Regions from separate parts of the Homo sapiens genome. Here regions 2 and 3 are each linked to region 1. Evidence: fine-mapped expression QTL. A gene starts in region 1. Each other region holds a variant in brackets. All regions are shown on one strand. Distances are between the middles of the regions.

Region 1 (8,182 bases):
GAGGAACATTTATTTAATAGCTTTATGGAGGTATGATTAACATGCAATAAACTGCAAATATGTAAAGTGTAAAATGTGCTGTTTCAGCATGTGTGTACACCTATGAAACCACCACAGTCAAGATATCCAACACAACAAAAGATTGTCCCTTTATAATCCTCAATTTTTCCTTATCTTGTTTTCCACAATTCACAAGCAACAGCAAGCATTTTCTATAATTTTATAAATGAAACCATATGGTGTGTACTTTTTAGGGGGTGGGGCTCTGGCTTTTTCAGTAAACATAACTATTTTAAGGTTAATCCATTATCTTGTTGCATGAATCAATTGTTTGCTCATTTGTATTGCTGCGTAGTATTTCAGTATTTCATTGTATACCACAATTTTTCTTCTTTGTCAACTTAATTGTTATGGATGTTTGGGTAACTTTCAGTTTTTGGCTATTACAAATAAACCTCTGAAGATTTGTGTGCAAATTATGGCTGAATGATATTCCATTCTATAAATACACCTCAGTTTCTTTATCCATTTACTTATTGAAGGACGGTTGCTTTCAAGTTTTGGCAGTTATGAATAAACCTACTACATATTTGTATAGTTTTTCTGTGGAGATGTTTTCAACTCATTTGGATATGTGCCAAGGAGTGCAATTTTCTCTGTCATATAGCATGTTTAGTCTTGTAAGAAACTGCCAAGCTGTCTTCCAAAGCGGCTGCACCATTTATTTTATTTATATATATTTTTTGAGACAGAGTCTCCACTCTGTCACCCAGGCTGGAGTGCAGTGGTATGATCTTGGTTCACTGCAACCTCCACCTATTTTAGTAGACATGGGTTTTTACCATGTTGGCCAGGCTGGTCTCAAACTCCTGACCTCAAGTGATCACCCTCCTCGGCCTCCCAAAGTGCTGGGATAACGGGGGTGAGCCACTGCAACGGGCTGTGGCTGTACCATTTTTGCATCCAACTAACAATGATTGAACATTCCTCTTGCATCTCATCCTAATCAGCATTTGGCATTTTCAGTATTTTGGATTTTAAAATGCCATTCAAATAGGTGTGTAGTGGTATGCCATTGTTGCTTTTATTTGCAATTCCCTAATAACACACAATAAGTATCTTTTTTAAAGGCAGGGTTGTTTTGTTTTGTTTTGAAATGGAGTCTTGCTCTGTTGCCCAGGCTGGAGTACAGTGGCATGATTTCGGCTCACTGCAACCTCCACCTCCCGGGTTCAAGCGATTCTCCCACCTTAGCCTTCCAAGCAGCTGGGACTACAGGCACCCGCCACCATGCCCAGCTAATTTTTGTATTTTTAGCAGAAATGGGGTTTCGCCATGTTGGCCAGGCTGGTCTCGAACTCCTGACCTCAGGTGATCTGTCTGCCTCGGCCTCCCAAGGTGCTGGGATTACAGGTGTGAGTCACTGCGCCCAGCCTGGCTGGGGTTTTTTTATGTGAGTTTCACACACCTCTGAGTAAGTGGCTTGCAGACAGAGAAGTTAACAACTTTGGCTGTTAGCTTGAACCTGTGATTTATGAATACCAAAAAGACAAATACAGAATCTAAGGAAACACATAACAGTCCTGTATACACACAGCAGCTGGCAGCCCTATTCCCGGTGTGTCCCATATACCTACCATTGACCTGAAACCCAGTTTGTACGTGCTCATTGAACATTTTGTAGAGCAGTAAATACACATCATCACACAGATTGCCTACTCATTTTTATTTTTATTTTTCGAGACGGAGTCTTGCACTGTCACCCAGGCTGGAGTGCAGTGGCGCGATCTCTGCTCACTGCAACTTCCACCTCCTGGGTTCAAGCGATTCTCCTGCCTCAGCCTCCCAAGTAGCTTGGATTACAGGCACCCGCCACCATGCCCAGATAATTTTTGTATTTTTAGTAGAGACAGGGTTTCACTATGTTGGCCAGGCTGGTCTTGAGCTCCTGACCTCGTGATCCGCCCACCTCGGCCTCCCAAATTGCTGGGATTGCAGGCGTGAGCCACCGCACCCGGCCTTCATTTTTATTTTTTGACAAGTGTTTCCATTTGTTATCTCTATCCCTCCAAACAGTTAATAAGCGATGTTTTCAAGTATGAAATAAGAAATACATATAGGAGACAGAAGCATAATGTGTCCAGGTTCCAGCACAGCCAGTCTCAACTTCATTCTTTGACTTCTCAGACTCTTGCTCAAACTCTACTGTAACCTTGCTTTTTCCCCCCTTCACATGTCACAGAGAGATTTCTGTAGGACTATTTCTGCCACTAGTTTTGAAATAACATAATCACTGTTAGTCCAAACTGCACCATCCTGTAAGCCCCCTGCCATCTCACAGACCTTGGTCAGAGTGAAGCATTCCACGGAGTGAGGGCCTTGAGAAACATCCTGCCCAACTGCCTGACTTTCTTATCACATCGTTCTGGGAAAAGATCCAAGGAAGGTCACTATCACATCCTGCCGGATAAAAGGCCAAACTGCCTCAGGAACATCTTACGCACATCCTTTGGCCGGGTGCTGTGGCTCACGCCTGTAATCCCAGCAATTTGGGAGGCCGAGGCGGGCGGATCACCTGAGGTCAGGAATTCCAGACTGGCCTGACCAACATGGTGAAACCCTGTCCCTACTAAAAATACAAAAAAATTAGCCGGGCGTGGTGGCACGCGCCTGTAAAGCCAACTACTCGGGAGGCGGAGTTCAAGAATCGCTTGAACTCCGGGAGGCGGAGGTTGCAGTGGGCCGAGATCACGCCATTGCACTCAAGGCTGGGCGACAAGAGCGAGACTCCTCCAAAAACAAAAAAAAACCCACCATCCTCCTGGGCAGCAAGTCATACCCTCCCGCCGCGCCCCCTGCCCCCCACCCCTGACCCCTCTCATCCAGGCCTATAATTGCCCCAGCCTGTAAGCAGTGAGGGGTTCTGGCACTAAGCTAGTTCTCCCCATCACAGGTCTCGTGCTGGACATAAAACCTGCATTGCTGTAGAGCTGCCAACTCTGCCTTTCTTTAACCCTCGCCTTCCCTTCAAAACCTAACAGTTATTATTAATAGATTTCTGTAATTTTCATTTCACAAGTATTTTCACAGATAATTTCAACTCCCTGTAAAATGATAACTCACTTCTCAGGAAGGAGATAAGATCATGAAAGTTCACAGTTTTTATTGGGGATAATACGTTCCCTGTGTACATATACTCCAACTATGGAATGGCACAAAATGTCCTGTCAGGAAATGGCATGTATCAGTCACTCTCATTTTCAGACAGGATTGAGACTTTTAAAATAAATGTAAAATATTTCAGACATGAAGTAATAAGTATTATTAGAATAAAAGCATTGCACTCTTGGTAGGAACACAATCACTGACTCTACAGACAGTAATGATGTTTTCTTCTGGATCCAGAGGCACAGCGTCACCCTTTCAATCTACGTCGGTATCTCCTGTCTTCTTTTGTGCAAATTCCCAGCCATGTAGTCTTTCTTTGTTCTCTTGGACCAACCATATTGAAGCTTAATAAATAGAAGTCAAAGTTTAACTGTATGTGTATTTGAAAAGCAACATATGGCTGAGAGGCATGAGTAGAGACAGAGTGCCTTTGTGGTATAGTGTGTCCCTTTGGCGGTGTAGCCGTTGAGAACTTGCTGTGCTTCACAATCCGATATCATAGGTCCCTCACATTTCTGTGAGTATCCTAGACCTTACTTCAAGAAAATCTGGTTATGTCGCCTTTAAGAGCAACCCAAGCCCCGTCCTGTCCGTGGAGTCCGGCACTCTGTTTACCAGCTCCCCTGACGGTGCCACTGAGCCTCTATCCGCCATATAAGGACTGACCAACGCTCTAAGGCAAGTCCAGAAGCGGTGTCGAAACTTCATAACCCAGAAGACACTGCGGTTCTCGGCAGCGCGACTGACCCAATGAATGTGCAGGAAGGAACCTTTGCGTGCGTGCGTGCGTGCGTGCGTCCGTCCTCGTGCTCGCGCATCGTAGGAGGGCGGGACTTCCGGCGTCCTCTTGCCGTGGTTGATTTGATTTTCTCTGGTGTTTTCACTAGTTCCGGCCTTTGGCGCTCTATGACGTCACCGAAGTGACGGAGCGGAAAAGCGCGAGAAGCGGCTTGGTTCCTTGTACGCAGAGGCGGTAGTGACACAGGCACAACTGACAGTGGCAGAAGCTCAGCTGACAAGGACTGGGGACGGCGGTGTCCTTGTCTTGCCTTTGTCGCCCCCGCCCCTCTCTTCCCTGGCTGGACTTGCGGAGTCCCCGCCGAAGAACCCGAGGTGGGTGCCCCGTCCCAGGCCCCCCCCCACCTCCGCCCGACCCCTCCTTCCAGTGCTGAAGCCCATAGAAGGGGCCCTGCAGGTCAGGCCCCTTGTCTCGAAGAGAGGGGCGTTCCTGTGTGGGGTCCCCGTATCAGCTGGTTTGATGCAGCCTCAGAGCTCCCTTCGGGGATCTCAGGTTCAGAGCATGGAGGTGCTGCCAAGTGGGCCGCGTCGGGGAGCCCGGAGTGTGGGTTGTTTCTGCGGGAAAGAGAGGGTTTTGTGAATTTTCTCTTGGAATGGCAGCCTGAGCAGCCGGTATAACCATGGAAGGTTGTCAAGGGAAGACCAGTGGGAGGGGCAGGTCCAGAGTTAGAACGAGCAGGATGGGGAATTGACACAGAGAGACCCAGAAGAGGCCACTGCAGTGGATCCCAGAGGCTGCACCAGAGCCGTGGTATAAGAGGGACAATGTGATGGGATTCTGGATAGACCTGGAAGATAGAGCCAACAGGTTTTCCTGCCGTATCAGATATGTCTGTGAGCAAAAATAGGGAGTGAAGGGTCATTTTTTTTTTTTTGCCCGAACATCTGAAAGAATGAAGTTGGGGAAGTCAGCAGCATGAGAAGTAGGTTTCATGGAGAAGATCATGGGTTGGAGTTTGGCCAGTGTGATTCTCAGGCGTCTCAAGTTGAAAATGTCACATGGGTAGGGGGACAGAAAGGTGTGGAGTCTACAGAGGAGAACTGGTGTAGATTCTTCAAAAGAATAGAGGGTGGCCGGGCGTGGTGGCTCACGCCGGTAATCCCAGCACTTTGGGAGGCCAAGGCGAGCGGATCACAAGGTCAGGCGTTCAAGACCAGCCTGACCAACATGGTGAAACCCCGTCTTTAGTAAAAATACAAAAATTAGCCGGGGGTGGTGACGCGCGCCTGTAATCCCAGCTATTCGGGAGGCTGAGGCAGGAGAATTGCCTGAACCCAGGAGGTGGAGATTGCAGTGAGCCAAGATCGCGCCATTGCACTCCAGCCTGGGCGACAGAGCGAGATTCCGTGTCAAAAAAAGGTGCGGAGCGCGGGTCTCTTCCGCGGAAACTGACATTGCGTTTCCGTTGTCGGCCTCCCGCTGCAGGAGCCATATATTGAAGACCATGTCTGGAAGCTTCTACTTTGTAATTGTTGGTCACCATGATAATCCAGTTTTTGAAATGGAGTTTTTGCCAGCTGGGAAGGCAGAATCCAAAGACGACCATCGTCATCTGAACCAGTTCATAGCTCATGCTGCTCTCGACCTCGTAGATGAGAACATGTGGCTGTCGAACAACATGTACTTGAAAACTGTGGACAAGTTCAACGAGTGGTTTGTGTCAGCATTTGTCACCGCGGGGCATATGAGGTTTATTATGCTTCATGACATAAGACAAGAAGATGGAATAAAGAACTTCTTTACTGATGTTTATGATTTATATATAAAATTTTCAATGAATCCATTTTATGAACCCAATTCTCCTATTCGATCAAGTGCATTTGACAGAAAAGTTCAGTTTCTTGGGAAGAAACACCTTTTAAGCTGAATGGAGAAAATTCCAAAATAAATTATATCACCACAATGGTGTATACTCAGGAATGTGTACATTGTAAATTACTTGATTAAATAGCCTGGAAATCTTTTGTGTATTCTCAGCTTATCTAAACTTAATGAAATTTCTTTTATATTTAAAAATAGTACATTCTGTCTCATGTCACATATCAGTAGATCAATTAGTATTTCCTTGTGAACAATGTTATTTATAAAGAACTCATTATCAATAATAATTAATTTCTTTCTTTTTTTTTTTTTTTTGAGACGGAGTTTTGCTCTTGTTGCCCAGGCTGGAGTGCAGTGGCACAGTCTCGTCTCACTGCACCCTCCGCCTCCCAGGTTCAAGCAATTCTGCCTCAGCCTCCCGAGTAGCTGGGATTACAGGCTCCCACCACCATGCCTGCCTAATTTTTTTTGTATTTTTAGTAGAGACGGAGTTTCGCCATGTTGGTCAGGCTGGTCTTGAACTCCTGACCTCGTGATCTGCCTGCCTCGGCCTCCCAAAGTGCTGGGATTACAGGCATGAGCCACCACTCCCGGCCATGAAATATTTTTACTTAAAAATTGGGAATAAGCTTTCTTTTTCTTTCTTTCTTTCTTTTTTTTTTTTCTTTTGAGATGGAGTCTGGCTCCTGTTGTGCAGGGGCTGGAGTGCAGTGGCACGATCTTGGCTCACTGCAACCTCCACCTCCCGGGTTCAAGCAATTCTCCTTCTTCAGCCTCCCAAGTAGCTAGGATTACAGGCATGCACCACCACGCCTGGCTAATTTTTGTATTTTTAGTAAAGACGGGATTTCACCATATTGGTCAGGCTGGTCTTGAACTCCTGACCTCGTGATCCGCTCGCCTCGGCCTCCCAAAGTGCTGGGATTACAGGTGTGAGCCACTGCGCCTGGCCATGAAATATTTTTTACTTAAAAATTGGGAATAAGCTTTTTTGTGTGTGTGTGTATGTTTTTGTTTTTTTGTTTTTGAGATGGAGTCTTGCTCCTGTCATGCAGGCTGGAGTGCAGTGGCACGATCTTGGCTCACTGCAGCCTCTGCCTCCCGGGTTCAAGCAGTTCTCCTTCCGCCTCCAGAGTAGCTGGGATTACAGGCATACGCCTGGCTAATTTTTGTATTTTTAGTAGAGACAGGGTTTCGCCATTTTGGCCAGGCTGGTCTTGAACTCCTGACCTCAGGTTATCTGCCTGCCTCGGCCTCCCGGAGTGCTGGGATTACAGGTGTGAGCCACTGCGCCTGGCTGGGAATAAGCTTTCGACTTGCCCAATTCAGATAAATTGTTTTTTTTTTTTTTTTTTTTGACGTGGAGTTTTGCTCTGTCGTCCAGGCTGGAGTGCAGTGGCGCTTGGCTCACTGCAACCTCTGCCTCCTGACTTCAAGCGATTCTCCTGCCTCAGCCTCCCAAAGTGCTGGGATTACAGGTGTGAGCCACCATACCCGGCCCAGATAGGTTGATCTTATAACAATCCAGAAACAAATGTCATAGTCAAGATTTGGTAGATAGATTTAAAACTAAAATATTCTGCCATTGGAAGTGAAATGTCATAGCACATACGTGGACGTTATGCATTTAGAGATGTTATAAAAATGTATTGGCAGTATACATAGCACTACTCAAGAAGCCAAAGAAACACTTGTGCAGTGCTAAGTGTCACATGTCTGCTTCTGCCAGAGGCTAGGAATAGTGATCTTGCTATAATGTGAGAACCTGAATCATGTTTGTAAAATAGGAGGCTGGGAGCAGTTCCAGGCCACAGTGAAGTGTGTTGCTTCTGTCACTTTATATTCTTATATTTCCTTTCCCTCAGACAATCAACTGTTGATGCCTGTACTTGTGAAAAGTTGTAAGGCAATTTTTAGGGTTGTTGTCAAAGAAAAGCTTGGATTACATTAACATTTGTACTCAGCCTTTTAGGCAATACACCAGAGGGGGCTGGGAATTGTCTGTTTGTTCCTATGATAAGTAGATCTTACTGTAAAATAGTAAATGTCCATTGAAAAGCAAGTAACACAACCTGTGCTAACTGGGAGCACTTGAACAATTTTGTTCCATTCTGAATAACTTTTCAGCAAGTAATTCTAAGCTTTGTCTTATATCCTTGTGTAAAATTGCTACCTTCATTTTTACCCTATTTGATTTCTTAAATGGTTTGTTCAAGAAAAAAAAAAAAAAAAAAAAGAATAGAGGGTGTAGATTGGACCGGGTCCTGAGGATCCAATTTGGTAGGGAAGTCTAAAGGTCATTGCCTGCAAGCTATGTGGTGAGGGAGGAGAGAGCTGATACTTGGGGTTCACACCATAGGTGGAGCCATAAGCCAGATGCTTACTTTAGAAAGG
Region 2 (8,182 bases), 91 kb before region 1:
TCACACTTTCGTGTATAACCAAAGCCCTGGCCCTAGCCTAGAATCTCTTACAGCAAAACAATCATATTTACTGAGCATCTACATTTAGTATAACATTTATATAAGATATATCAGCAGTATCATCATGAACATGCTGAGCCACTGGAGCAGCTCGTGTGGGGAATGGATAGATTTAGAAACAACAATCCATCCCATAAAGCCATTCATACTTTTCCATATATTTGTATCAATTCAATTACTCATTGTTCTCCTTGATCTACTGTTAATTGTACTTTGTGGTAAACCACCTCCCCTCTCACTACATTGGCTTAAGTTATCCTCCACCTTGCACATCTGGAAAGAGCCAGAGCTCCCTAACAGGACTTCTCCCTCTTGCCCCTCCCATATTCCAATTTCCATAGACTACCCAGAGTGATCCTTTTAAAACATAAATCAGTCCAGGCACAGTGGCTCACGCCTGTAATCCCAGCACTTTGGGAGGCTGAGGCGGGTGGATCACGAGGTCAGGAGATCGAGACCATCCTGGCTAACACGGTGAAACCCTGTCTCTACTAAAAATACAAAAAATTACCCGGGCATGGTGGCACATGCCTCTAATCCCAGCTACTCCAGAGGCTGAGGTGGGAGAATCGCTTGAACTCAGGAGGAGAAGGTTGCAGTGAGCCGAGATCACGCCATCACACTCCAGCCTGGCGACAGGGCAAGACTCCGTCTCAAAAAACAAACAAAAACATAAATCAGATAACATCACAGCTCTGCTCAAAACCCCATGATGGCTACCCATTTCACAGTGTATTAGCTATATTTTCTTATTTTCTGCATTGTTGATGCTATGGAATTTGGGACCTTGCCATTTAGAGTTAACTGATTCTTAGAGATTGCAAATGACTCACTCTGAACCATGCCTTTTATTTGCATACTAACAAATCCAGAGTACCCTAATGTGAATCATCTCCTCTGTCTGGCTCTTACACTACAGGAGACAATTTTTTTTTTTTTTTTTTTTTTTTGCTCTAATGACTCCAGGGCCAGGTACTAGGCAGACAGGGACAGCTCCTAGACCCCAAAGTCTACCAACTTTATTCAAACCAGCAAATCCTCTTCTGGTTACCCAGCCCTGCCTTTCTTTTCCTGTGGAAAACAATAAAGGATCTGGCCTCTGCTTTCTCCTCTGCTTCTGCTTCTTATACCACCCTGGTGCTTCTCACATAGCCCTGCAGGATGTGTTTTGCCTACTGTTTCTAAAACTCCGTGAGTTGAAAGTTCTTCCTTCCTGGCAATCATTTGCATGTCCGAGTTTCTTATCAGACCATACTGCAAAAAACCCCAGGTACATTTTTGAACACACAGGAACATATTACAACCTCTCTACGCTGGCATAAAAGACTACACAATTTGTTTCCATCTATCTCTCCAACTTCCATGCACATTCAGTTCCAGCCGCACTAGGCTTCTTGGTGTTCCACAAACACCCAGGATGCTCTGTCAGTTCCATTGTCCTGTGTGTTTTCTCTGAGTGATAACACTGTTTCCTGAGATCTCCACTTGATGAGTCTTTAATTCCTCCAAGTCCATGCTAAAACATCACTTTTTTTTTTTCTTTTGAGACGAAGTCTTGCTCTGTCGCCCAGGCTGGAGAGCAGTGGCGTGATCTCGGCTCACTGCAACCTCTGCCTCCCGGGTTCAAATGATTCTCCTGCCTCAGCCTCCCTAGTAGCTGGGACTACAGGGGCCCACCACCACGGCCAGCTAATTTTTTGTATTTTTAGTAGAGACGGGGTTTCACCATGTTAGCCAGGATGGTCTCGATCTCCCGACCTCATGATCTGCCTGCCTCAGCCTCCCAAAGTGCTGGGATTACAGGCATGAGCCACCACGCCCGGCCTAACTGTCCTATTAGACCTGTCCCAACCACTCTGTATTGCACAACTGGCTTTATCCCACTCTCACTGATTCTTAATCTGCTCTAGTTTGTCTTATCTCCGCAACACTCCTAACCTTCTATATTGTTTAGGAGTTTTGGATTATTATTATTTTGTGTGTGTGTGTGTGTGTGTGTGTGTGTGGTATGTATGTGTCTCCATTGTGACTTTTTGTTTTTTTGTTTAGAAACAGGGTTTCGCTAGATAGCCCAGGCTGGTCTCAAACTCCTGGTCTCAAGCGATCCTCCTGTTTCAGTGTCCTGAGTAGCTAGGACTACAGGAACAAACCCACCAGGCCCAGCTCTGTATCTCCACTGTTTAGAGCAGAGCCTATCACAAGATAGTCAAGTACTTGTTGAGTTAATTAATTAAAAGTTAGTAAATATATAAAAATATATTTTCAAATGGTTATGAATGTCCTAAAGAAAAATAGAGCAGAGTAATATTGGGGTGAGGGACTACTTTAAAATTTTTATTATTGTTATTATTTTTTAAACAAACAGGTTCTCTCACTCTGTTGCCCGGGCTGGAATGCAGTGGCACAATCATGGCTCACTGCAGCCTAAACCGCCGTGGCTCAAGTGATCCTCCTCCCTCAGCCTCCCGAGTAGCCAGGACTATAGGTACCCACCACCACGCCTGGCTAATTTTTAAATTTTTCACAGAGACGGGGTCTCACTATGTTGCCCAGGCTGGTCTTGAACTCCTGGGCTCAAGTGTTCCTCCTACCTCGGCTTCTCCAAGTGTTGGGATTACAGGACCCCACACCTGGCCGGAGGAGCTACTTTAGATTAAGAGATCCGCACTTGAGCCCAGGAGTTTTGAGAGGAGCTGGGCAACACAGTGAGACCCCATCTCTACAAAAAATAAAAAAAAAATTAGTTGGGTGTGTTGGTGTGGGCTTGTGATCCCAGTTACTCAGGAGGCTGAGGTGAGAGGATCACATGAGCCTGGGAGGTGGAGGCTGCAGTGAGCTATGACCCTGCTACAGTACTGCAGCCTGGGTTACAGAGGAAGACCCCATCTCAAAAGAAAAAAAAAAGAGTAAGAGATCTGGAGAGGCCTCTATGAGAAGGGAATGGTTGATACAAGCTGAGACTCATTACCTGGACCACATGTCTACAATCCAGGTGGCACTGGCTCAACACTGTATCTTTTACATCATCTTGCAAAGTGCCTTCCCTCAGCTTCTCTAAGAAGTATTTGTAGAGTGAATGTTGAGTGGATTTTATAATAATGCTGTGAAATCCCCATGGTCTCCTGGCACCACTGTAGGACTGTTACTGTAGGACTGCGGGGTCACCCCTGGCTGTTAAGGCCATTTCCCTTTCTCTTCTCTCAGCAACCAGCCTATGGCTTCAGGGGAAACTTCCAGTTCAAGACTGAAAGTCATGGTTTTGGCCCTGAGATGTATTTCTGCTCCTGACTCCATGAGAACAAGACAGATTCTACAGGGAATGAAAGGAGAAGCTACAAGGAATGAAAGGAGAAGGAATGAAAGGAATGAAGGGAGAAGGAATGAAAGGAGAAGCTGACTGGAGCAAACACTAGTTATGAAAGGATTCCCTATGAAGTGAGACTTGAGATGAAGAGGAAGCAGCAGATTCCAGATGAATTT[T/C]AGGGTTGGAACCCATATATTACCTTCATAACCAGAGAGCCTGGTATTCTTGATTCTTCCACTATAGACCACTGATGTGGTTTGAGAAGAGAGTACAGAATGACACCACTTTCAACAATACCCAGAGGCATAAATTGCTCCAAAGCTTTTTATCAGGCTTGACCGAACACGGTGGCTCACACCTGTAGTCCCAGCACTTTGGGAGGCCAAGGCGGGTGGATCACATGAGGTCAGGAGTTCGAGACCAGCCTGGCCAACATGGTGAAACCCTGTCTCTACTAAAAACTACAAAAATGTAATCCCAGCTACTTGGGATGAGGCAGGAGAATAGCTTGAACCTAGGAGGCAGAGGTTGCAGTGAGCCGAGATCACGCCATTGCACTCCAGCCTGGGTGACAGAGCAAAACTCCGTCTCAAAAAAAAAAAAAAAAAAAATCAGGCTGTTTGGGTTCCCAAACTGTTTGATATTTGTTCTACCTCAGGTTGGCGTACCTCCACATGTTTCTTTCCAGGCTCTCTGCTTGTCCCCTCAGGCAGTATCTCTGGATCTGGGTTCTAAAGCTGGGAGTGGGAACAATGGCCCACTTCTGACATCCTGCTTTGAGGGTTGAGTGCTCAGTGGTAGCGGGTGGCCAGTGGTCTCATGTCTTTTCAGCTGCCCTGTCATGGTACACTACTACAGACTTTCAGTGGGGCAAGTGTGATGAATCCCCAGTGCTCAGCATCATGATGCCCAAGGAAGGGCCTTCATCTCACCAACACTGGATGGGTGGAGGAAGGGAGCTCCTGCCTCTGGGGCTGCACTCACTAGGGATTTAGCCTCAGCAAGTTTCTGGTGGCAAGATAAGAAATGCTGACATCCTACCCTGCTGGGAAGACAGCCCTCTGTATGGAAGCTGAGAGGGAGAGCCCTGTGTTCTTGTCTGCAACACTGTAGAGTACAGTTTCCATATCATTGAACTGGGAGGGCTGAAGGAAAGAGATAGTCTTGGTTCAAATACCACAGACTCTCGCAGTTCTTACAGAAGGACAGATTCTCTTGAATAAATATTTTTTCATTTGATGTATATCCTTAGGACTATCTCCAGAGACACGACTTTTTTTGTTTTCATTTTTGTTTTTAATAATTTTCAACAGTTTTGTTGGGGAATAGGCCCACAGAGCTCCTTATGCTGTCACGCCAGAAGTCTCTCCTTGCTTTTTTTGTTTTAAACTTTTTATTTTCTGACAATTTTAGCTGTAAAGAAGCAAAGATATTACAGAGTTCCTATATAACTTCATGCAGCTCCACCTCATGTTAATACTTCATAAGCCTATGACATATTTGTCAAAGCTAAGAAATTAACATGGTATACTACTACTACTACTAACTGAACTACACACTGTATTTGGATTTCACCAGTTTTTTTCCACTAATGTCCTCCAGTTGCAGGATCCAGTCCAGGACACCACATTTCAGTTAATCATCTCATCGCTTTAGTTTTCTCCCATCTGTGACAGCTGCTCTGTCTTTTCTTGTTTTTCATGATCTACATACTTCTGGAGTACTCATAATGCAATGTCCCTTAATTTGCATTTGTCTGGTATTTTTTCATTATTAGTCTAGAATTGTGGGTTAAGGGGAAGAACATCAGATTGGCAAAGTGTCCTCCTTGTATCATCATAGTAGGTGTTACGTGATGTCAAGATGACTAAAATGGACCAGGCACGGTGGCTTACGCCCTGTAATCCCAGGACTTTGGGAGGCCGAGGCGGGTGGATCACAAGGTCAAGAGATCCAGACCATCCTGGCCAACATGGTGAAACCCCGTCTCTACTAAAAATACAAAAATTAGCCGGGCGTGGTGGCGTGCAACTGTAGTCCCAGCTGCTCAAGAGGCTCAGGCAGGAGAATGGCTTGAACCTGGGAGGCGGAGGTTGCAGTGAGCTGAGATTGCGCCACTGCACTCCAGCCTGGGAGACAGAGCAAGACTCCATCTCAAAAAAAAAAAAAAAAAAGATGACTTAAGTGATGCTAACCTTGATCACTTGGTTAGGTACTTGTCTGCCAGGTTTCCCCTGTCAAGTTACTGTTTTCATTTTCCACAATTAGTCACTAAATCCAGCCAACTCAAGGGGAAGACCACAAAGCTCCACTGTCTGAAGGGGGCTGTTGGTATCTATGTATACTATTTGCAATTCTTCTTTAAGATTGGTTTCTTCTCCTTGTTTATTTATGGGTGAGCCTTATTAATTACTGGTTTTAATTTCTGAAAAATCAAGTAAGTGCTCACCTTAGCAATACATATATTAAAAATCAAATGTAAGTGCTTCTATGTGTGTTTTGTGAATCCCGTCTTATACAAATAAGGTAAGGGAGATACTAAGATTTGGAAATAGTTCGTCTCCACCAAAACTCATGTTGAAATTTGATTTCCAAGCTGGGCATGGTGGTGTGCACCTGTAGTCCCAGCTACCTGGGAGGCTGAGGCCGAAGGATCACTTGAGCCTAGGAGTTCACAGACAGCCTGGGAAACATAGTGAGACCCCATATGATATGGTTTGGCTGTGTCCCCACCCAAATCTCATCTTGAATTGTAACTCTCACAACTCTCATTTGTCATGGGAGGGATCGGTGGGGGGTGACTGAATTATGGGGCAGGGTCTTTCCTGCGCTGTTATGATAGTGAAGGAGTCTCACCAGATCTGATAGTTTTAAAAACAGGAGTTTCTGGCTGGGTGCGGTGGCTCACACCTATAATCCCAGCACTTTGGGAGGCTGAGGTGGGCGGATCACAAGGTCAGGAGATCAAGACCATCCTGGTTAACATGATGAAACCCCGTTTCTACTAAAAATACAAAACATTAGTGGGGCGTGGTGGCTCACGCCTGTAGTCCCAGCTACTCAGGAGGCTGAGGCAGGAGAATCACTTGAACCCGGGAGGCAGAGTGAGCCGAGATCGCGCCACTGCACTCCAGCCTGAGCAACAGAGTGAGACTCCATCAAAAAAAAAAAAAAAAAAAAAGGAAACATTCAGTAAGCTTGTTCTGTATTCCTACACAAAGAGTATAACAGCAATATATTCCACAAGAGTAAAGCAAAATAAGTAAAGTTATTCTAAGTAAACTAAATTAGAAGGCTTTTCATGAACTGAGCAACTGTTGGAACTAAGCTGGCATGGGGTTGTTAGCTGATTATAATGTGCCCAGAATTGGAATATTGATCCAGATTTTTACATTACCCATCCCTCTTATTTTTTCTGAGCAGCAGTCAGAGATGTTGGTTCACAGGAATAAGCAGGGTAGCTTAAATTGCAGAAACAAACTTAAAAAGAACTAATGAGACTAGAATTTAATAACAAGTATACCATAGTTCTTGAAATATAATATTTCTCTCTCCAGTTTCCCATTTTTACTAAAGACAAATTAGGGTAAGACTGATTTGATTTGCTTTATTATACTTGGCCTGATTATTTATATAAAGTGCAGCAAGAATAATTATTTTCCACATAGGCATTTTTTTTTTTTTTTTTTTGAGATGGAGTCTCGCTCTGTTGCCCAGGCTGGAGTGCAGTGGCGCGTTCTCAGCTCACTGCAAGCTCCGTCTCCCGGGTTCACGCCATTCTCCTGCCTCAGCCTCCCGAGTAGCTGGGGCTATAGGCACCCGCCACCACGCCCAGCTAATTTTTTTGTATTTTTAGTAGAGACGGGGTTTCACCATGTTGGCCAGGCTGGTCTCGAATTCCTGACCTCAGGTGATCTGCCCTCCTTGGCCTTCCAGAGTGTTGGGATTACAGGCGTGAGCCACCACACCTGGCCTATCCACTTTTAATTAAGCTAACTTTTAACCATAGTGCTCTTTAAAAAAGAAATCCTTTCAAATCTCTTATTACCCAACTTTAGCCATGCCAAGAAGCCAATATTTCTAACTTCTGAACTTTACCAAAGGTTATCTCCTACGTGCATAGAGAAAGGAAAATTTAAGACAGTCTGCGGAGGAGAAGAGACTAGACAAGGTCACGCAGATATTAAACCAGAAATGACTTACTTCCTAGGTGGGGTATCAAACCCAAACTGCCACTGTGAAAGTGCAGAAACCTTAGTTACTGAGCTACAGTGTGGGACGGTGCCTACTTCCTTTCACAGAAGCCTAGAGTAGTTAATTTTGAGCTTGCAAAGGCTTTTAACTATTTTATATGATTTTTAGAGCTGACTATGACATGAACCCTAAAATTCCTTTTCCCTAGTAGGTGGAGACCAAGAGAAGGTACTGCCACATGGTTAAAAGGTCAGGCTCCCAAGGACATAAAACAAGGGGAGACTTCATCCTGTTTGTTTGTTTCAGGGACCTGCAGCTGTTTGTTACTGACCAGTTTGCTGGGTCATGTTGAAAAGTGGGCTCACAGGTGTTCTAAGCCCATGTTTCATCCTACAGAAAAACAAATTCACAGCACAAAATACACCAGTTTGACTAGCTTAGAATTCTTTTTCATATTAATCAAAACTTTACAGAGGAGATACACACTGATTTATTATTTTTATTATTGTTATTATTTTTACCATTCATTCAACCGTTTGCACAGAGAGGGAGAAGTCAGAAATCTGACTGGTAACAAATTCTTACCTTTTTGCTGGCATGCCAGGCTTCTGTGTTCCCTTTCTC
Region 3 (8,182 bases), 82 kb after region 1:
GGAATGCCGTGCTGCACCAGGCCACGGGAAATACTAGATTTGGTTAGGAGGCAGAGGCATGACTGAAGGGAAAGCATATATCAGAGACTGTATTGGGGTTTTGGCAGGAAAGGCATGCAGGGTGGGATGAGGAGCTTAAAACTCAGTGGTTTGCATAAGTCTGGCAGCCTTAGGGCTAAGAGATTATCCCTTATTGTGTGGTGACAGGGCTTGTGTTGATTAGGACAGGAGAAATAATCATGTATGAGCATTAGATAGTGGTTCAGCATATGGGATCTGGATCGCAAGGGAAATGTAAAAACATTGGCTGTTAGTTTGGCCCTCCAATTCTTAGATTTTAAGTAGATAAATACAGATCTAAGGAAACACAGAATAAGAAGTTGTTCATAGACTGAAGTGTCATAATTTTGGCAGGATTGTATGGTCTTTGAGGATGTGGCCATATATTTCTCCCAAGAGGAATGGGGGATCCTTAATGATGCTCAGAGACACCTGCACAGCAATGTGATGTTGGAGAACTTTGCGCTTTTGTCATCAGTAGGTAAGGCCTTCATACCTACTCTGGTGTCTTGTGCTGGGTGCTGTTTTTTTGCTCTTTTCCATGACAACTCTGTCTTTCCCACACCAGATTGTGAGTGCTACGTCCTGTCCTCTCCTGGTTTCCTGGCAAATGTGATAAGGCAGCCAGAGCTGGGCTGTGTATACTGTACCACCTCCCCTTAAGCAGCCCCAGCTTCTGTTGCTCTGAAACTTTACAAGATAAGGCTCGGAAGTCAGAAATCTTCAGGTTTCTTTAAGATATCCTAATGGCGGTGCCTGTCCCTGGTTTGATTACTCTGTCCAAATGTGTGAAACCTCTGTCCAAGGGTTTCCCTGTTCCCCTTGCTGACATACTTGGAGACAGTGTCTGTGCTAGGAATTTCAGGCACCTCCCTGGTCACCACTTGTGAGGATTGTGAAGTTATTTCTGCAGGACGCTCTACTGGGTGTTCTGGTAGCTTTAGAATGCAGCATGTCCTGGGTTTATTGCTCTGTGTACATGCTGTCCCCTCCCTTTCCCTGCCTTTCCCGTAGCTGGACTTATGCCGCAGCTAGATAGTTGCTCACCTTGAGCAAGGGGGAGGTCTCTGGGTGCCTGGCAGAGTGGATAGTCCTCTATTAATGGCAAGAGACACTCAGAAGGACTTGGCCCTGGTGGGTGAAAGCTGGGAAAGGATGTGATATCAAGGCTGGGTTCAAATCACATTGAGAACTTACCTTGTGACCACTATTGTTTGATGCAGGGCCACTGGCCACTCGTCACTCTTCCTTTCCTTCCCTGTTGTTATTTTTACTCTGACTTCTGACCCCTGGCTTCCACCTCTGACCCCTCCTCTCCAGCCTTCATCTCTCCACCATTCTCTTCCACCTCTCCCTTTGCAGTGCTGTCTAATGTATGACCTGTACTTTAGGTGTTATGAGGTCTGCGTGTATCCTTCAGTAGTCCATGAATACTCGCTCTCACACAATCAGATCTCTCTGGATCTGGACACAACCGTCATGGCCTGTTGAAAGCCATTTATAGAGGAGTGAGTTGGAGACCCCACCTGCCCTCCCTGCATGGTACTTCTCCCTTGTGTCCTTACCACCAGGATTCCCCCACTACACACACTTCACAGGCCCACCTCTGAACACTGGGCCTTCCTCTCACTGGCCTTATTTCCTTGCCTGTGACCAGTCCTGTGCCCTCATTTGTGGGTGTGTCTCACAGACATTTGTGATGGGGCTGTCTCCTCCCTCCGGAGTTCACGTGCACTTCACCAGCATTTCTGTTCTTACAGGTTGTTGGCATGGAGCCAAGGATGAGGAGGTACCTTCCAAGCAGTGTGTTTCTGTAAGAGTGTTACAGGTCACAATTCCAAAGCCAGCTTTGTCCACCCTGAAGGCCCAGCCCTGCAAGATGTGTAGCTCAATTCTGAAGGACATTCTGCACCTGGCTGAGCACGATGGAACACACCCTGAGCAAGGGCTGTACACATGTGCAGCAGAGCATGACCTGCACCAAAAGGAGCAGATTAGAGAGAAGCTCACCAGAAGTGATGAGTGGAGGCCTTCATTTGTGAACCACAGTGCTCACGTGGGAGAGAGGAACTTCACATGCACGCAGGGTGGCAAGGATTTTACTGCCAGCTCAGACCTTCTCCAGCAACAGGTCTTAAACAGTGGGTGGAAGCTGTACAGGGATACCCAGGATGGGGAAGCCTTTCAAGGTGAACAGAATGATTTCAACTCCAGCCAAGGTGGGAAAGACTTTTGCCACCAACATGGGCTGTTTGAGCACCAAAAAACCCATAATGGGGAGAGGCCTTATGAGTTCAGTGAATGTGGGGAATTGTTTAGGTACAACTCCAACCTTATTAAATATCAGCAAAATCATGCTGGAGAAAGGCCTTATGAGGGCACTGAATATGGAAAGACCTTTATTAGAAAGTCCAACCTAGTTCAGCACCAGAAAATTCACAGTGAAGGCTTTCTTTCAAAAAGGTCTGACCCCATTGAACATCAGGAGATTCTCAGTAGACCAACACCTTATGAATGCACCCAGTGTGGGAAGGCCTTTCTTACACAGGCTCATCTGGTTGGTCACCAGAAAACCCATACTGGAGAACAGCCCTATGAATGCAACAAGTGTGGGAAGTTTTTTATGTATAACTCCAAACTCATCAGACATCAGAAAGTTCACACTGGGGAGAGGCGTTACGAGTGCAGTGAATGTGGGAAATTGTTTATGGACAGCTTCACACTCGGTAGACATCAGAGAGTTCATACTGGAGAAAGGCCTTTTGAATGCAGCATATGTGGAAAATTCTTTAGTCACCGCTCCACACTCAATATGCACCAGAGAGTTCATGCTGGCAAAAGGCTTTATAAGTGTAGCGAATGTGGGAAAGCCTTTAGCCTCAAACATAATGTTGTTCAGCATCTGAAAATTCATACTGGAGAACGGCCTTATGAGTGCACTGAATGTGAGAAGGCCTTTGTTAGAAAGTCCCACCTAGTTCAGCACCAGAAAATCCACACTGATGCATTTTCAAAAAGGTCTGACCTCATTCAACACAAGAGGATTGACATTAGGCCAAGGCCTTATACATGCAGTGAATGTGGGAAGGCCTTCCTTACACAGGCTCATCTGGTTGGTCACCAGAAAATCCATACTGGAGAACGGCCTTATGAATGCACTCAATGTGCGAAGGCCTTTGTTAGAAAGTCCCACCTAGTTCAGCATGAGAAAATCCACACTGATGCATTTTCAAAAAGGTCTGACCTCATTCAACACAAGAGGATTGACCTCAGGCCAAGGCCTTATGTGTGTAGTGAATGTGGGAAGGCCTTCCTTACACAGGCTCATCTAGATGGTCACCAGAAAATCCAGACTGGAGAACGGCGTTATGAATGCAATGAATGTGGGAAATTCTTTTTGGACAGCTACAAACTTGTTATTCATCAGAGAATTCACACTGGAGAAAAGCCTTATAAATGCAGCAAATGTGGGAAATTCTTTAGATATCGCTGTACACTGAGTAGACATCAGAAAGTTCACACTGGAGAAAGACCTTATGAGTGTAGTGAATGTGGGAAATTTTTTAGAGATAGCTACAAACTCATTATTCATCAGAGAGTTCATACTGGAGAAAAGCCTTATGAATGCAGCAACTGTGGGAAGTTTCTTAGATACCGCTCTACATTCATTAAACATCATAAAGTTTGCACTGGGGAGAAGCCTCATGAGTGCAGTAAATGTAGGGAATTGTTTAGGACTAAATCGAGCCTTATTATACATCAGCAGTCTCACACTGGAGAAAGTCCTTTTAAGTTAAGGGAATGTGGGAAAGACTTCAACAAATGTAATACTGGTCAGCGCCAAAAAACTCACACTGGAGAAAGGTCTTATGAGTGTGGTGAATCCAGCAAAGTGTTTAAATACAACTCCAGCCTCATTAAACATCAGA[T/G]AATTCATACTGGAAAAAGGCCTTAGTGGAGTGAATGCAGGAAAGTCACCAAAACTGTCACCTCATTCAGCACCAAAAGGTTCACATCGGACCAAGAACCTATTAATATATGTAAATCTAATGTTGAAAGAGTTCAGATGGAAATCTGCGAGGATTTCCTGCTGGGAACTACATTAAAAACATTTATGTCCAGGCGTGGTGGCTCACGCCTGTAATCCCAGCACTTTGGGAGGCAGAGGTGGGTGGATCACCTGAGGTCAGGAGTTTGAGACCAGCCGGGCCAACATGGTGAAGCCCCATCTCTACTAAAAATACAAAAATTAGCTGGGCATGGTGGCAGGTGCCTGTAATCCCAGCTATTCAGGGGACTGAGGCAGGGAGCATCACTTGAACCTGGGAGGCGGAGGTTGCAGTGAACTGAGATTGTTCCATTGCACTCCAGCCTGGGTGACAGGGCGAGACTCTGTCTCAAAAAGAAAAAAATTATAATTGTGGCAAATTACAGGTAACTTAAAATCTACCATCTTAACCCATATTTAACTGTACTGTTCAGTAGTGTTAAGTCATTCGCATTGTTGTCAATTAATATCCAGAAGTTTTTTCAACTTAATGAAACTAAAACATTATACCCTTTAAACCAGGGGTCCACAACCCCCAGGCTGCAAACTGGTACCAGTCTGTGGCCTGTTAGGAACCGGGCCAGCATCACTACCTGAGCTTCACCTCCTGTCAGATGAGCAGCATTAGATTCTCATAGCAGCCTGAGCCCTATTGTGAACTGTGCCTGTGAGGGATCTAGGTTGTGTGCTCCTTATGAGAATCTAACTAATACCTGATGATCTGAGGTGGGACAGTTTTATTCTGAAACTGTCTGCCCCCTCCTCTGTCCCTGATGCGTGGAAAAATTGGCTTCCATGAAACCAGTCCCTGGTGCCAAAGAGGTTGGGGACCGCTGCTTTAAACTACTCCTCTTCCTCATTCCCTACGCCAACCAGCCCCTGACAATACTACTGTATGAATTTTACTATAAATATCTCATATGAGGAAACTTAAGTTTTAGTCTTTTGTGACTTATTTTGAGGCTTATTTCCCTAAATGTCTTCAAGGTTTATCCATGTTGTAGCATAGCTTATGATTTTCATCTTTTTTAAAGGCCGAATAAAATCCCATTGTAGTCATGTGTCGCCTAACAAGAGGACTGTGTTCTGAGTAATCATCTTAAGGTGATTTTGTCATTGTGTGAACAAAGAGTGTACTTACACAAACCTGAAGGGCACAGCCTATTACGCACCTAGGCTATATGATATGGTCCATTGCGCCTCAGATATAAACCTTAACAGCATGTTACAGTATTGAATATTGTAGGTAATTGAAACACAATGATAAGTAAATGTGTATCTAAACATATCTAAGTTTCCAAAAGGTACTGTAAAAATGTATGAAAAATGGTAAAAACTTTATAGGGCACTAACATGAACGAAGCTTGCGGGACCCCTCTGGTTGAGTCAGGGAGTGAGTTGTGAGTGAATGTGAAGCTCTAGGACATTACTGTACCCTATTGTAGATGTTATAAACATTGTACACTTAGGCTACTCTAAATTAATTTTTTCTTTAGTAATAAATTAACCTTAGTCTACTGTAACGTTTTTACTTCATGAACTTTTAAAATTTTAAAAAGCTTTTTGACTCTTTTGTAATAATAGCTTAAAACACAAACACATTATACAGCCTGTATAGAAGTACTCCTTTATATTCTATAAACTTTTTCTATTTAATTTTTTAACTTCGTAAAAAATAAGTTAAAAATGAAGACACAGACACACACATTAGTCAAGGCCTACAGAGGGTGAGGATCATTAATATCACTGTCTTTTGCCTCCACATCTTGTCCCACTAGAAGGTTTTCAGGCTCAATAACAGGGAGTTGTTATCTCCTATGATAACAATATTCTGGAATATTTTCTGAAGCCTTGCCTCACACTTTTTTTTTTTTTTTTTTTTTGAGACAGAGTCTCGCACTGTTGCCAGGCTGGAGTGCAGTGGCACAATCTCGGCTCACTGCAACCTCTGCCTCCTGGGTTCAAGTGATTCTCCTGCTTCAGCCTCCCGAGTAGCTAGGATTACAGGTGCCTGCCACCACGCTCAGCTAATTTTTTGTATTTTTAGTAGAGATGGCGTTTCACTATGTTGGCCAGGCTGGTCTCGAACTCCTGACCTCATGATTCGCCCGCCTCAGCCTCCCAGAGTGCTGGGATGACAGGCATGAGCCACCGCGCCTGGCTTTATTTTTTTTTTGAGACAGAGTCTTGCACTGTTGCCTGGGCTGGTGTGTAGTGGTGTGATCTTGGCTCACTGCAACCTCCGCCTCCCGGGTACAAGCGATTCTCCTGCCTCAGCCTCCCGAGTAGCTAGGATTACAGGTGCCCACCAGCATGCCCGGCTAATTTTTTGTATTTTTAGTAGAGATGGGGTTTCACTATGTTGGCCAGGCTGGTCTCCAACTCCTGACCTCATGATCCGCCCATCTCGGCCTCCCAAAGTGCTGGGATTACAGGCATGAGCCACAGCGCCCGGCCTGTGCTCTTTATATGACTGGCAGACCAGTAGGTTTGTTTACACCAGTGTCACCACACACACTTGAGTAATGGGATTGAGTTACAGTGGCTGTGGTGGCACTAGGTGATAGGAGTTGTTTAGCTCTGTTATAATACGGGATTACTGTTATACATGTGGTCCATGGTAGACAGAAATGTGTGGCATATGACTGTGGTATATGTATATGCCACTTTTCCTGTATTCTTTCTTCAGTGTACATTTGGGTTGCTTCCACTCTTCTGTTCTTGTTAATGCCACTATGAGCATGAATATACAAATACCTCCTGAGGCCCTGCTTTAAATTCTTCTTGGACATATACCCAGAAGTGGAAATGGTGCTTCCCGTTAATAATAATAATTATAATAATAATAATTATTATTATTATTTTGAGACGGAGTCTTGCTCTGTCACCCAGGCTGGAGTTCAGTGGCACAATCTCGGCTCACTGCAAGCTCCGCCTCCCGGGTTCACGCCATTCTCCTGCCTCAGCCTCCCAAGTAGCTGGGACTACAGGTGCCCGCCACCACGCCCGGCTAATTTTTTGTATTTTTAGTAGAGACGGGGTTTCACCGTGTTAGCCAGGATGGTCTTGATCTTCCTGACTTTGTGATCCATCCGCCTCAGCCTCCCAAAGTGCTGGGATTACAGGCGTGAGCCACCACGCCTGGCCACTTCCCGTTAATTCTATTTTAAATTGTGGGGGGAATTATTTTCCATAGCAGCTGCACCATTTTACATTCTCACCAGTGCAGGGGTTCTAGTTTTTCACATTATTGCCAACACTTTGTTTTTTAATCATGATGGGTGTAAGATGTTATTTTATTATGGTTTTTTAATTTGCATTTCAGTATTGGTGTTGAGCATCTTTTCATTTGCTTGTTGACTAATTGTATAGGTTCTTTGGAGAAATATCTGTTAAATGTCTTTGCCCATTGAAGAAAGTTTTTGTAAATTTTCAGATAACATTGTATGCTTTTGTTGTGTACAACATGATGTGAAGTATATATACTTTGTTGAGTGGTTAACATGTACGTATTATATATGTACATATTCTGTATACGTATTTTAAATATTAACCCCTTGCAGATATGTGTTTTTCAAATACTGTCTACCATTCAGTCTGCTTCCTTTTCATTCTGTTCATGTCTTTTTTTTTTTTTTTTGCACAGGAGTTTTCAAATTTCAATGGAGTCCAATATATGTTATGTTTGTTTCCTATGCTTTTGGTATTATACCCAAGAAATTATTGCTAAATCCAGTGTCATGAACCTTTTTTCATGTTATTTTCTAGGAGTTTTATAGTTTTAAGTTGTACTTTTATGTCTGATTTATTTCAGTTTGTTTTAGTAAATGGAGGAAGGTAAGAGTTCAACTTCATTCTTTTGCATATAGATATCCAGCTTTTTGAAAGTCATTTGTTGAAAAGACTCCTTAATAAGTTTTTGCGCTCTTGTCAAAAATCTGAGCATAAGTATGAGGACTTCCGTCTGGCCTCTTTATTCCACTATATGTATGCATTTGTGCTAGTACCAAGGTGTTTTGATACATAATTCTTTTAAAAGAATAATGTTTCTGTCCACTGTTGAGGCCCTTGCTA

Direction of the effects. Positions count from the first base shown, and alleles are read on the strand shown. Sizes are in standard deviations (SD) of each study's normalised expression. Not every link is listed here.
For the expression in monocytes after Pam3CSK4 of the gene that starts at base 4,129 in region 1, C is the low allele of the variant in region 2 and T is the other (moderate effect, 0.50 SD a copy in Quach 2016).

Evidence for each region. PIP is the estimated chance that this variant, and not a neighbour inherited with it, causes the effect.
Region 2: its variant is fine-mapped to the expression of ZNF547 in monocytes after Pam3CSK4 (Quach 2016, PIP 0.95). The same link has a PIP of 0.9 or more in monocytes after LPS.
Region 3: its variant is fine-mapped to the expression of ZNF547 in whole blood (TOPMed, PIP above 0.99).

What each region holds. Positions count from the first base shown.
Region 1 is chr19:57,359,423-57,367,604 of GRCh38, forward strand. It overlaps ZNF547 (zinc finger protein 547), which reads left to right and starts at 4,129. Exons shown (of 4, transcript NM_173631.4): 1 at 4,129-4,281. It overlaps ZNF304 (zinc finger protein 304), which reads left to right. Exons shown (of 3, transcript NM_020657.4): 3 at 1-476. It overlaps TRAPPC2B (trafficking protein particle complex subunit 2B), which reads left to right and starts at 4,129. Exons shown (of 2, transcript NM_001355204.2): 1 at 4,129-4,281; 2 at 5,393-5,983. The coding sequence starts at 5,412. The coding sequence ends at 5,834. RefSeq lists enhancers at 3,682-3,761, 3,802-4,181.
Region 2 is chr19:57,268,792-57,276,973 of GRCh38, forward strand. It overlaps ZNF460-AS1 (ZNF460 antisense RNA 1), which reads right to left. Exons shown (of 3, transcript NR_136529.1): 2 at 8,144-8,182. Among named protein-coding and RNA genes, the nearest start is that of ZNF460-AS1, 7.5 kb to the right of the region's middle. RefSeq lists silencers at 3,172-3,231, 4,270-4,564. The variant T/C (reference allele first, on the strand shown) is at 3,541.
Region 3 is chr19:57,441,471-57,449,652 of GRCh38, forward strand. It overlaps ZNF749 (zinc finger protein 749), which reads left to right. Exons shown (of 3, transcript NM_001023561.4): 2 at 415-541; 3 at 1,821-5,631. The coding sequence ends at 4,015. Among named protein-coding and RNA genes, the nearest start is that of ZNF749, 10 kb to the left of the region's middle. The variant T/G (reference allele first, on the strand shown) is at 3,990.